2 linked regions of the Homo sapiens genome follow. The protein of the gene in region 1 purifies or fractionates together with the protein of each later gene. This does not show direct contact. Each region holds a gene or a part of one and is shown in the gene's direction. Other genes may lie near its edges.

Region 1 (4,913 bases):
GCACTTTGGGAGGCTGAGGCAGGCAGATCACTTGAGGTCAGGAGTTCAAGACCAGCGTGGCCAACATAGTGAAACCCCGTCTCTACTAAAAATACAAAAATTAGCTGGGCGTAGTGGCGTGCGCCCATAGTCCCAGCTACTCAGGAGGCTGAGGCAGGAGAACTGCTTGAACCCTGGAGGTGGAGGTTGTAGTGAGCCGAGATCACGCCATTGCACTCCAACTCCAACCTGCAGGACAGAGCGAGACTCTGTTTCAAAAAAAGAAACTATGTCTCTTTTTTATAAAGAAGAGAAATAGTACATATTGCTGTCTGAGTTTCATTGGCACTAGTAGGATTTTGGGGAGCTGGCAAGCTCTGGTTGATGAGTGAATCAGTGACAGCAGTGGGTGAACCGAGGCTTAGAGTTGCAGCAGGTGGTCTCAGTAGCCATCAGATAAAACTGGTTTCAGGTTACCGCAGGCAGTTTCAGCAGTCAGGCCTCAGAGAAGTACATTCTTGGAGCAATGTTTTCTATCCTGAGTGCTGAATGGTCTCCCTACCTGGCACTCTGCCTTAGTTGGGTGTGACAAGGGTGACCCAATTTGTATGCTCACCTTTCACACCGAATCCTCAGCTCGGACAGGTTTCCCTGTCTAGGCTTTGACTTTCCCCTTGAACCTCATCCCACACACCTGTTCCATCGGGGCCACTGGCTTATGATGGAGACCAGTGGTATGACTGTGGCAGGCTCCTTCTAGGGGCACTCTGTCTCCTGGGATCTGCCACACTGGGGGGGATTCTACTTGGCCTTCTCTGACTCCCCAGGGTCCCTCCCACCACAGCACTTGGAGGCTCTTCCATGGGAAAACTGTCTTGATCTTTAGGTACCTGGAGATTCTGGGCCACTTTGGTTCCCCGTGAGCCAAGACGGCACTCTGGTTTGCATTCCCTACTGGAGTCCCTGTCTGTAGCCAGCCTGGCTTTCAGCTGGTGCCCAAAGTGACAAATGTATTTGCAATGACAAAGGGTACCCTGGGAAGGGCTCGCCCTCTTCGGAATTTCAGTTTACGTGGGCCTTGGTGCTTCCACATCTGTCCAAGGGCCTTTCAAATGTGACTTTTAACTCTGTGGATTGATTTGCCTGGTTGTCACATTCTGAGCAGCCACAACCTACTGCATCCCATGTAGAAGTGGAAGTGACCTGATTTTTTCCTGACTTTTCAAGGCTGTATGTTTACATTTGCCTCCAATCATTCCTATATGGGAATTCCTTGGGAGTCTAACTTGGAGATTTTGTTTCTTCTGCCTTTGCTCCTGGGGGCTTAATCACTTCTGTGCCTCTGGTTATCTGTGGCACATTTGTATTTGTCATTAGTCAACCGGAGACTCGGGGTCTGAGTGGAGGGTATGTCCCCCTCCAGTGATGGTTTCTGTTGGCTTCCCAGGGTGAGGATGACTCATGACCACTTGCAAGTGGTTTTTGTGTCTGGGGTTTATGATCACACAGTCATACACGTTCTAACTCCAGACTGACTGTTGAGAAAGCCTCTGGGTAAGGAATTCCTGGGAAACACACTGTTTTCATGCATCCTCTGGAAGATGAGGCCTGAAGTTACCAGGGTCTCTGTTTGCTGATGCTGATGATCCACATTTTCTAGCCCACTCTGCTTCTCTGACACCTTTAGTCTTGAGGATCCATGCTCTGTGAAGGAATCCAAGCTCTCATTTCGCACTCACCTTGGCCCTGGCTCTGTCTCCAGGACCTCTTCTACTACAAAATCCTAAAGCTCTGGGAGCTGGGTGTCAACCTGTGCCCGAGGAAATCATACAGTTACTGTGGACTTTCCAGTTTGCTGTCTTCTAGTATTCCATTGTAGCTCTTGGGTATTTTCCCATCCACCCCAAGATCCAGCTGGAAATCAGTGAACACACTTGATGGGAGTTTTCCTGCATGTGCTCTGGGCATTGACAGTAGAAGGGTGTTCAGAATGTCTGCTGTGCCCTCATGGAGGAAGAGGGCCTCAGTGTACATGCTCTGGGTCAGTAGGTGCCCTTGAGCCCAGCTTTGGGAGCAAGTGTTGGATGAGTGAAGGAGGCATCCAGGGAAAGCAGGCACGACAGAGTGGAGACGGGGCTGCTGGGTCTCAGGGGAATGGGCATGGAGTGGGTAGGAGATCCACCTAGGGAGGCTGGCTGGCTGGACGAGTCAGGAGCCCCTTCCAAGGGTGGACACTGACAGGCCCCCAGTCTTGGTCTCCTGCATGCCAGAGGTACCAGCCCATCTTTTTTCCTAAACTTGATGACCTAGGGCTAGGGGCATTTTGAATCTCAGCCTCGCCCACTGGCGCTGGACTTGGTACACAGGGTGGGGCAAAGTGGGTACTGGATCCTGATCATCCCTATCCCTGGGGTGTGGCTTCTTGCTGCACAGTCAGCTTCTAGTTCTGTAGCCCCAGCTGCTCCTGCGGTGGAGGGAGCTACACATCAGGCTCTGACCCCCTCCAGGTGGGGCCTTCGCGTGAGGGGAGTCAGCACGCATCAGCAGCTGGGCCCAGGGAGTTGCCCCACTGAGCACTGCGGGCTGACCTGCTCCCAACCAGGGAGATGGAGCTTCCCCCTTGAGTCGGGCTGCTGAAGGGGGGTAGGGGATGGAGACAGTGCGTTTGCAGGAGTAAGGGTGCAGTTGGGTCCCTGCGAGAAAATGTCTCAGTTGTGGCAACTGATTGGTGACCTGGGGGGCGTTTCTGAGCCCACAGTGCTGGCATCAGGACTCAGGTGTGAGGTGCCCCAGACCCTCCCCTTGCCAGTAATTAGCTGATGGCTCGGTGATGCCCAGGGTGAAGGAAGACTTGATTTTGGGAGGGGAGTTCTCTCGTAATGACACTGAGGATGCCTTCAAGTTGGGCTTCTGGCATGTTCTGCCCTCGCTCCCCTTCTGTAGTCACCTTGGCCCTCGTGTTGCTGAGCTGTGTGTGGGAGCGGGAAGCGCGTCAGTGGGCGGAGGGAGCGGGAAGCGCGTCAGTGGGCGGAGTATTTGAGAACATTTCACAAGCCGCTGTTGAGGTTCAGAATCAACCAGCAGATACAGAAACATATTTCGGAGCGTGGGGACCCTTGGGTGAGCTGCCACATGAAGCAGCCCCAGGACCTCCCTGGCTCAAGGAGTGACAGCGAGTTTGTCTGAGGTGAGGGCACAGGCCTGGCGAAGCCTCGTGTGTGGGTGAGACCTGCCCGACCCCAGTGCCTTACCCGAGGAGCTACTGGCCCAGTGGGGGAGGCATTCAGGTGGGCAGAGTCAGGGAGACTCATGAGGCCGTTGAGGCCAGGGGCATAGAGCTGGCCAAGGAGCCATGGCTCACTAACGTGTTGTATGGGGCTCCTTCCCTTCAGGTCCAGGCTCCTGCGTGAAGTGATGCTCCTCTTTGCCTTACTCCTAGCCATGGAGCTCCCATTGGTGGCAGCCAGTGCCACCATGCGCGCTCAGTGTAAGTATCATTCCCTCTCACTGTCCTGGAGAGGACGAGAATTCACCTGGGGTGCTGGGGGTCACTGGGATGATTGGCTGCAACGTGGAGCAAGCCTCCGTTAGCTGGGGCCTGCATTGTCTGTGTAATCAGGGGTGGGCACTAGGGCAGTCCAGGAGTAGTCATGAGCAAGGAGAGGGTTAGGATGAAGGAGCAGCTGACCAGGGACCAAGGGGGAACCTTGATGTGGCCCTTCTCCATCAGCGCCAGGCAGGAGGGGCTCTGTCCAGGGAAACCCAGGAGGATGGCGGACCCCTGTGAGTATCCAGTCTTCCTTGGCGAGGTGAGCCAGGTCTGCAGAGCATAGCAATCCCGTATGTGACCACCAGTGGCGCTCTCTGGAGCCTGCGTTGGAGAGCAGGGAAAGCTCTCCTTGTGCCTGGCCTCCCTCCCAGGAGCTAGCCTGGGCCAGACTCAGACTGCATAGAGAGCTGAGCTGTGCAGGCTAGGAGAAGTCCTTGGAAGCAGAGGGGAAGGGCTGGCCGTTGAAGAAGGGTGGAGTGAGCTGGTAATGGGTGGAAAAGGCGTAGTGGAGCAGAAGCCTGAAGCCTGCTTTCTCCCCTCTCAGGGACTTACAGTTTGAGATGCCATGACTGTGCGGTCATAAATGACTTCAACTGTCCCAACATTAGAGTATGTCCGTATCATATTAGGCGCTGTATGACAATCTCCATTCGTAAGTACCTCTTTGTCATTTTGACACATTGTAGATTAGTCCCCTACCTGGGTAGTTTCTGGGGCCAGGGCCAGTCTGCTTTCTTCTCTGCACCCAGCTCTGTTTCCCCTTCCCTCATGTCCTCCCATCCTGAGTGCGTTTCTGCACGCTTTGGTCTCAGCCTCATGATAGGCCAGCATGCATCATCTTGTAGAGCCAGGTACTCTGCAAAGTAGTACAATCTGTCCACACATCTGCAGCGTCTCCAGGGGGTAGGAGCATTGCTGGACCTCAGAGCCTCTACTGTCCCTGGTTGTGTGTGTAGACACCCCATGCTGCCTGGGTGAGTCCTCACTGGCCATTCAATTTCTGGTAGTCTAGAGAGTGCTTCCAGCTCGGCAGGTCAAAGCAGTGGATGGGCCATGGACTCCCCCCAGGGAAAAACCTACCACACACAGATGGGAAGGACAAGCATGAGGTCAGGGCACAGCCTGCACTTCCAGGATGCTCTTGCTTTTTCCTCAGAGCCCTCTGGTGCCCTCTCTCCCCAGGGCCCTAACCTGCAGAAGATGTATGGCCAGAGGCCCAGTGACCAATGGAGCAAGCAGGGAGGGTGCAGCCAGTGTATGCCCTGGCGCACAGGTGGAGCCTCGTCTGGGGCTCTGCTCAGGGCCTTTCCTGTAGCCCTTTTGTCCCCGGTGTCTGTGGTTGTGCTTGCAACTTCACATGTCATTCTGTGTTCTAAGCTTTGTG
Region 2 (4,913 bases), on another chromosome or scaffold:
TGGGTTAATTTACTGGGTTTTCTATGCTGACAACAGATACCAGTTTTGTAACTTAGCATGCACAGCTAGACAGAAGGAACACATTATACAAGATTTTTGTGCCATAAGCTGTATTTTTTTGTCTGTCATTAAGAATAGCGATTGAATTATTCCTTTTGCTGGATGATGGAGGCTTTGCTTGTACTTTCAGAAGCTGGCTGATATGACTCCTGAAAGTGTTCCTTCTGAATTTTGTCAGCCATCTGGAGGGAGTACAAGATGGAACTTGACTATAACACAGTTCAAGAAAATACCACTGTTTCCCAATATGTAGGTCCTCAAGAGTTAGAAGTCACTATGTTGGTTAATACCTTCAGGGTATACCCTCTGAAAGATCAACAAATCCTTGGGGTGTTTAATATTTTGCCCTTATTTTTCAGGAGACGTGGTCTAACTCAGACAGTATTTTTGGTTTCTGAGAATGTCAGAATTGCAGAACTAACCACTCTTGACCCAGAGAAGTTATTTCCAGCCAATTTTAACATGTTGTTGATGGCCTTTTGACAGGAGTTCATACTGGAGTCAAAGCTTTTGAGGGTGGAGGGTGGGGACTTAGAGGACCCTGAAGAATTCTTTGAAAAACATCCTATTGCTGGGAGCTGGGGAGTGTGGCGGGAGAGCATCCTCTTCTTTAACTGCTCTTGAAAAGAGTTGGAAAATGCCCTGGGCACATTTGGTTAAAACCATAAAATAGTATAATGAAAACCTGATCTGAGAAAATATGTCAGAGAGCCAGCGTTTATCCTTACCCCTGCATGATTAAATGAACAATGAACTGTGAGAGTTGCTACTTGTTCATGAGTATTAAAACTTCAGTATTTCCCCCAAATAGGCTCATGTTCACACCTTCATAACAGAATGGACTTCTAGGCTGAATTCCTTTAAGCACATGTGGTACACTCTGATATAGAATGTTGTTGTTTTGAACTAGATAATTGATTCTAAGGGTTTTTAGTTTAATGCATATTTGTATAAGACTGAAGTGTGTGGTTTTTTTTTTTTTTTTTTAACCAGATTAAGAGTTCTGTTTGGGGCCGGGCGCGGTGGCTCACGCCTGTAATCCCAGCACTTTGGGAGGCCAAGGCGGGCAGATCACGAGGTCAGGAGATCGAGACCATGGTGAAACCCTGTCTCTACTAAAAATACAAAAAATTAGCTGGGCGCGGTGGCGGGCACCTGTAGTCCCAGCTACTCAGGAGGCTGAGGCAGGAGAATGGCATGAACCTGGGAGGCGGAGCTTGCAGTGAGCTGAGATCGCACCACTGCACTCCAGCCTGGGTGACAGAGGGAGACTCTGTCTCAAAAAAAAAAAAAAAAAAGAGTTCTGTTTGGTTTTATGGAAAGAATATTACTTTTTAACAAGAAAATGTCTTTCTTTTCATGAGCCATTTTCTTACTGCATTTAATCATATTATTAAGATAAAGTGCAATTTGTTATGTGGACAAATGTATATCCCTTTACAATTATATTTGTTTCTATTGCATACATTTTTCTGGAAGAAGTCTTATTTTCACATGCAAAATTTGTGAATGGTGCCTCAGAGCCTCAGAAGACAGAAAGTTAACAGCTGGTTCAGTCTAGAATGTGTTTCTTTGATTCTCTTTTTTCTTTATTTTAGGAACTTAGCTTAGTTTTTCCAAAATGATTGAAAGGTCTCCGTTGATTTTCTCTGCTGTTATTTGTGTCTGTATTTGATATAACTTTATATCATACATCTGAAAACTATCACATAAACTCTACTTGGCAAATAGTTCTTCACTTCCATCGATGTGGATTTCTGTGTCTTTCAAACAGCGGTGTAGTTTTATAAAGTATCTATCTTTAATTGGTATTTCTAAGTTAGAAAAAGGGGGAAAAAAGCCAGCTCAATAAATATTAATATAACTGGTGACTAACCAATTACAAAAAGAAAAACTAGCGAAATACTTCATTTTAGAAATGTAAAAGTGAGTAACGACCCAGTTGTCCAACCTGATTAAAAAAACTTGTCAGATGTGAGTGACTGTGTGAAACCTGCTATTTGCTATCACTGAAATAGGAGTGAAAACTGATGAGAATGTAAAATGAATTGCTTTGTACTTTTAAATCGTGTTTCACATTTATCTCATTTTCTCTTCATCATAGACAGCTGTGAGCACAGTCACAACGCAGAATCATTATTCCAACCGTGCTTGGGTTGGGACTAGCCTCAGAAGATCATGTAGTGTATCACCCTGCCTTCTGGCCATATCAAAAGCACTGTCCACAAACAGTTTAATTTAGAATTTATGTAATAAGGGACTTGGATTGATTTGATGGGTTTTTTTGTTCCAATCAGACCTATTTAGACTAATGGGCCATACTGAAAATGACCAATATTTCTAGTTTGAAATTTTAATTCTAATTTAATGAAAGTTTACAGCTTTCCCTAATGACCCAAGTATACTTTGTAATTAGCTGTAGGCCTGCAAGTGATCCTAATTCTATGCTCCATATGACCTGTGATGTATGTGTGCTTATATATAATATAGTATGTTTTCCTAAATTCAGCATGAACACATCAGCCCACTACTATAAAATCTTGAAATTTTCTTTAGATCATAACACAGAGTTTGAAAAATTATGACTTCACAGACTCTTTTCCACTAAAGTAATCTATTAACTGGCAGGTTTAGGTTGGAGTGCTATTATTGAGAATTCAGTACATTGTAGCAGTGATATTACACTTGTATGAAAAAAAAGTTAAAGTCATCCATTTGGTAATGATATTCAGAAAACAGAAAGAGTGAGCTAAGAAAGAAATAGAGATTTATACTGACAGGTAATTCATAAATAAATAGTAACCCTTTAGCTGATAACATCATTTATCAACTATATACCATCCCATAAGGAAAAAAATGTTCATTTGTATAACTTTATTCCTTTTTAAAAATTAGTTATTTTGAATTGTTTGTATTAAAAATACTGTATCTAAAATGATTTTAATGTATATATGTTGATAATGTCATTACAAATAGGAATTTATTTTATAAAAGCTAATGGCTTTGGTCTACACAGTTAAAGATGAATGGAAAAAAAGATCATTGGCTGATTTGAACATACACCAAAATACTTTCAAAAAGGTTGGATACAGAAAAATTCTAATTTTGAAAGCCAGGCTTACTACAAAATTGAAAGATGTGATTAACTCTTCATCTTTCTTGAATAATTCTAATTGAAGCAGAAGCAAGTTGGAATCAGTGATTTCTCTGGGGAAGCGGAATAAACACTTGTAATAGCGTAGACATTTCAGGAAACTTTTGGCTTAATGGTATGTGGCAAATTATTTACCCTGAGGGGAGACATTGACTGAGGTCACAGCAGATAGATGAATCCCAGATGTGACACTTTTTCATTATATTTGACACAGGAAGCTGACACATAATTAAAGTATGATTGGGGATTATTTACTCCCTTTGAATTCTGTAGAAATATCCACATCATACTATAGTATTTTACTGGTAAAAGTTTATGACTGTCATTAAACCATACTTAAGTATTTTCTTATATTTTCACTTTCCTAGAAATGTGAAAAGGCCCCATCTCTAGTGATAGCTGTTAGGGCTTGGAATTTTTCAGGGAGAGGTGAGCACTTTCATTCAACAAAGGCAGCCAGGGAGTCAGTCGTCTCTCATTCCATCTGTAGCCACAGACCAAAGCCAAGTGCAGATCATCCTATAAGCCAGTGCAGACATTGCCTTGAATGGTAGTGATGGTGTGTTCAAGGCACAACTCCAAAGTGTCTCTCATGGACATCTGCCCTCTCTTGATTGTCTTTATTCCTATATCATTGTGCCCACCTAGCTTGAGACAGCCATGCTAAACTTCCTGTTTTCTCTTTCTCCCCTCCCTCTTCTCGTCTCAACCTCCAGTCTTACCCCAACTGTAGCAAGGTTCTGCCAAATTTCATCTCCTTCCAAGCAGAGTGGGTGTTTTAAGTTAAGCATACCATGTGCTCCATGCTTCTGAAGATTAAATCTGCATTTTTTAGCATGACTTTCAAAGCCCTGTTCCTCACCGATCCACCAAGCCAGCCTTGCCTCCTACAACTTTGCCATCTTGCTCAGTGCCCCGACTACACTGAATTTCTTCAGTTTCCTCAAATGGGTCCAGATTCTTACTCACCTCCAGATTTTACCTCTGGCTATCCTCTTGCTCTGCTGCCTAATTCTTCCCTCCCTGGCACATGGAAGATACTGACCTGTATTCATTGAATAAAAGCAACAAGTAATTGACTAATTGAGCAACTGATTAAATCAGTTAACCTCCTGTACTATTTTCCAGTATTACCTTCCATGTAATAATAATGTCACTTGTCTTGATTGTATTAGTGTTGAGATCAATTGGTAGAAGGGGTGTGTGTGTGGGTGTGTGTGTGTGTGTGTGTGTAATTAGAAATATATAGAGAAAATGATATTCGTTATCTGGGATTAGGTAAAGGAAGGCTTCTACTTTAGATTCAAAACTTTATTAACCAATAAATTACTACTATTTTCTATAGCTTTTCTTTAAGAGTATGTGCATCTGTCACAGGCCAGAGCATTGCAAACACAATAGGTAAGCATGTTTTCATTTTTACATTCTTATGGTATACTAAGAAAGTTGAACAGTAACCATTTCTCTGCACAGACCATAAAAAAATGAAAGAACCCTTGAGGAATACCAAGATATCTGTTGCATATATGGAACCTTCTAATAAATATTACTTCAATACTTGGTAATACTATTATTTATAAGAACATATAATTGTAGGGAAAATGACAACTTTTATAAAACCATTATAAAACATTTGTAGCTTGGAGAGTATGTTATACAATTTTTCCAGCTCATTTATCATGCTTGGTCTCAACTATGA

The links. The genes of interacting proteins can lie anywhere in the genome.
Region 2: the proteins of GML (region 1) and ITGA8 purify together in Homo sapiens (affinity purification with mass spectrometry; one large-scale study listed by BioGRID and IntAct). This does not show direct contact.

What each region holds. Positions count from the first base shown.
Region 1 is NC_000008.11:142,837,045-142,841,957, forward strand, and holds part of GML (glycosyl-phosphatidylinositol-anchored molecule-like protein precursor), read left to right. Parts: intron 1-3,371; 5' UTR 3,372-3,393; coding exon 3,394-3,466; intron 3,467-4,073; coding exon 4,074-4,181; intron 4,182-4,913. UniProt on the Homo sapiens protein: May play a role in the apoptotic pathway or cell-cycle regulation induced by p53/TP53 after DNA damage.
Region 2 is NC_000010.11:15,607,937-15,612,849, reverse strand, and holds part of ITGA8 (integrin alpha-8 isoform 1 preproprotein), read left to right. Parts: intron 1-4,559; coding exon 4,560-4,615; intron 4,616-4,913. UniProt on the Homo sapiens protein: Integrin alpha-8/beta-1 functions in the genesis of kidney and probably of other organs by regulating the recruitment of mesenchymal cells into epithelial structures.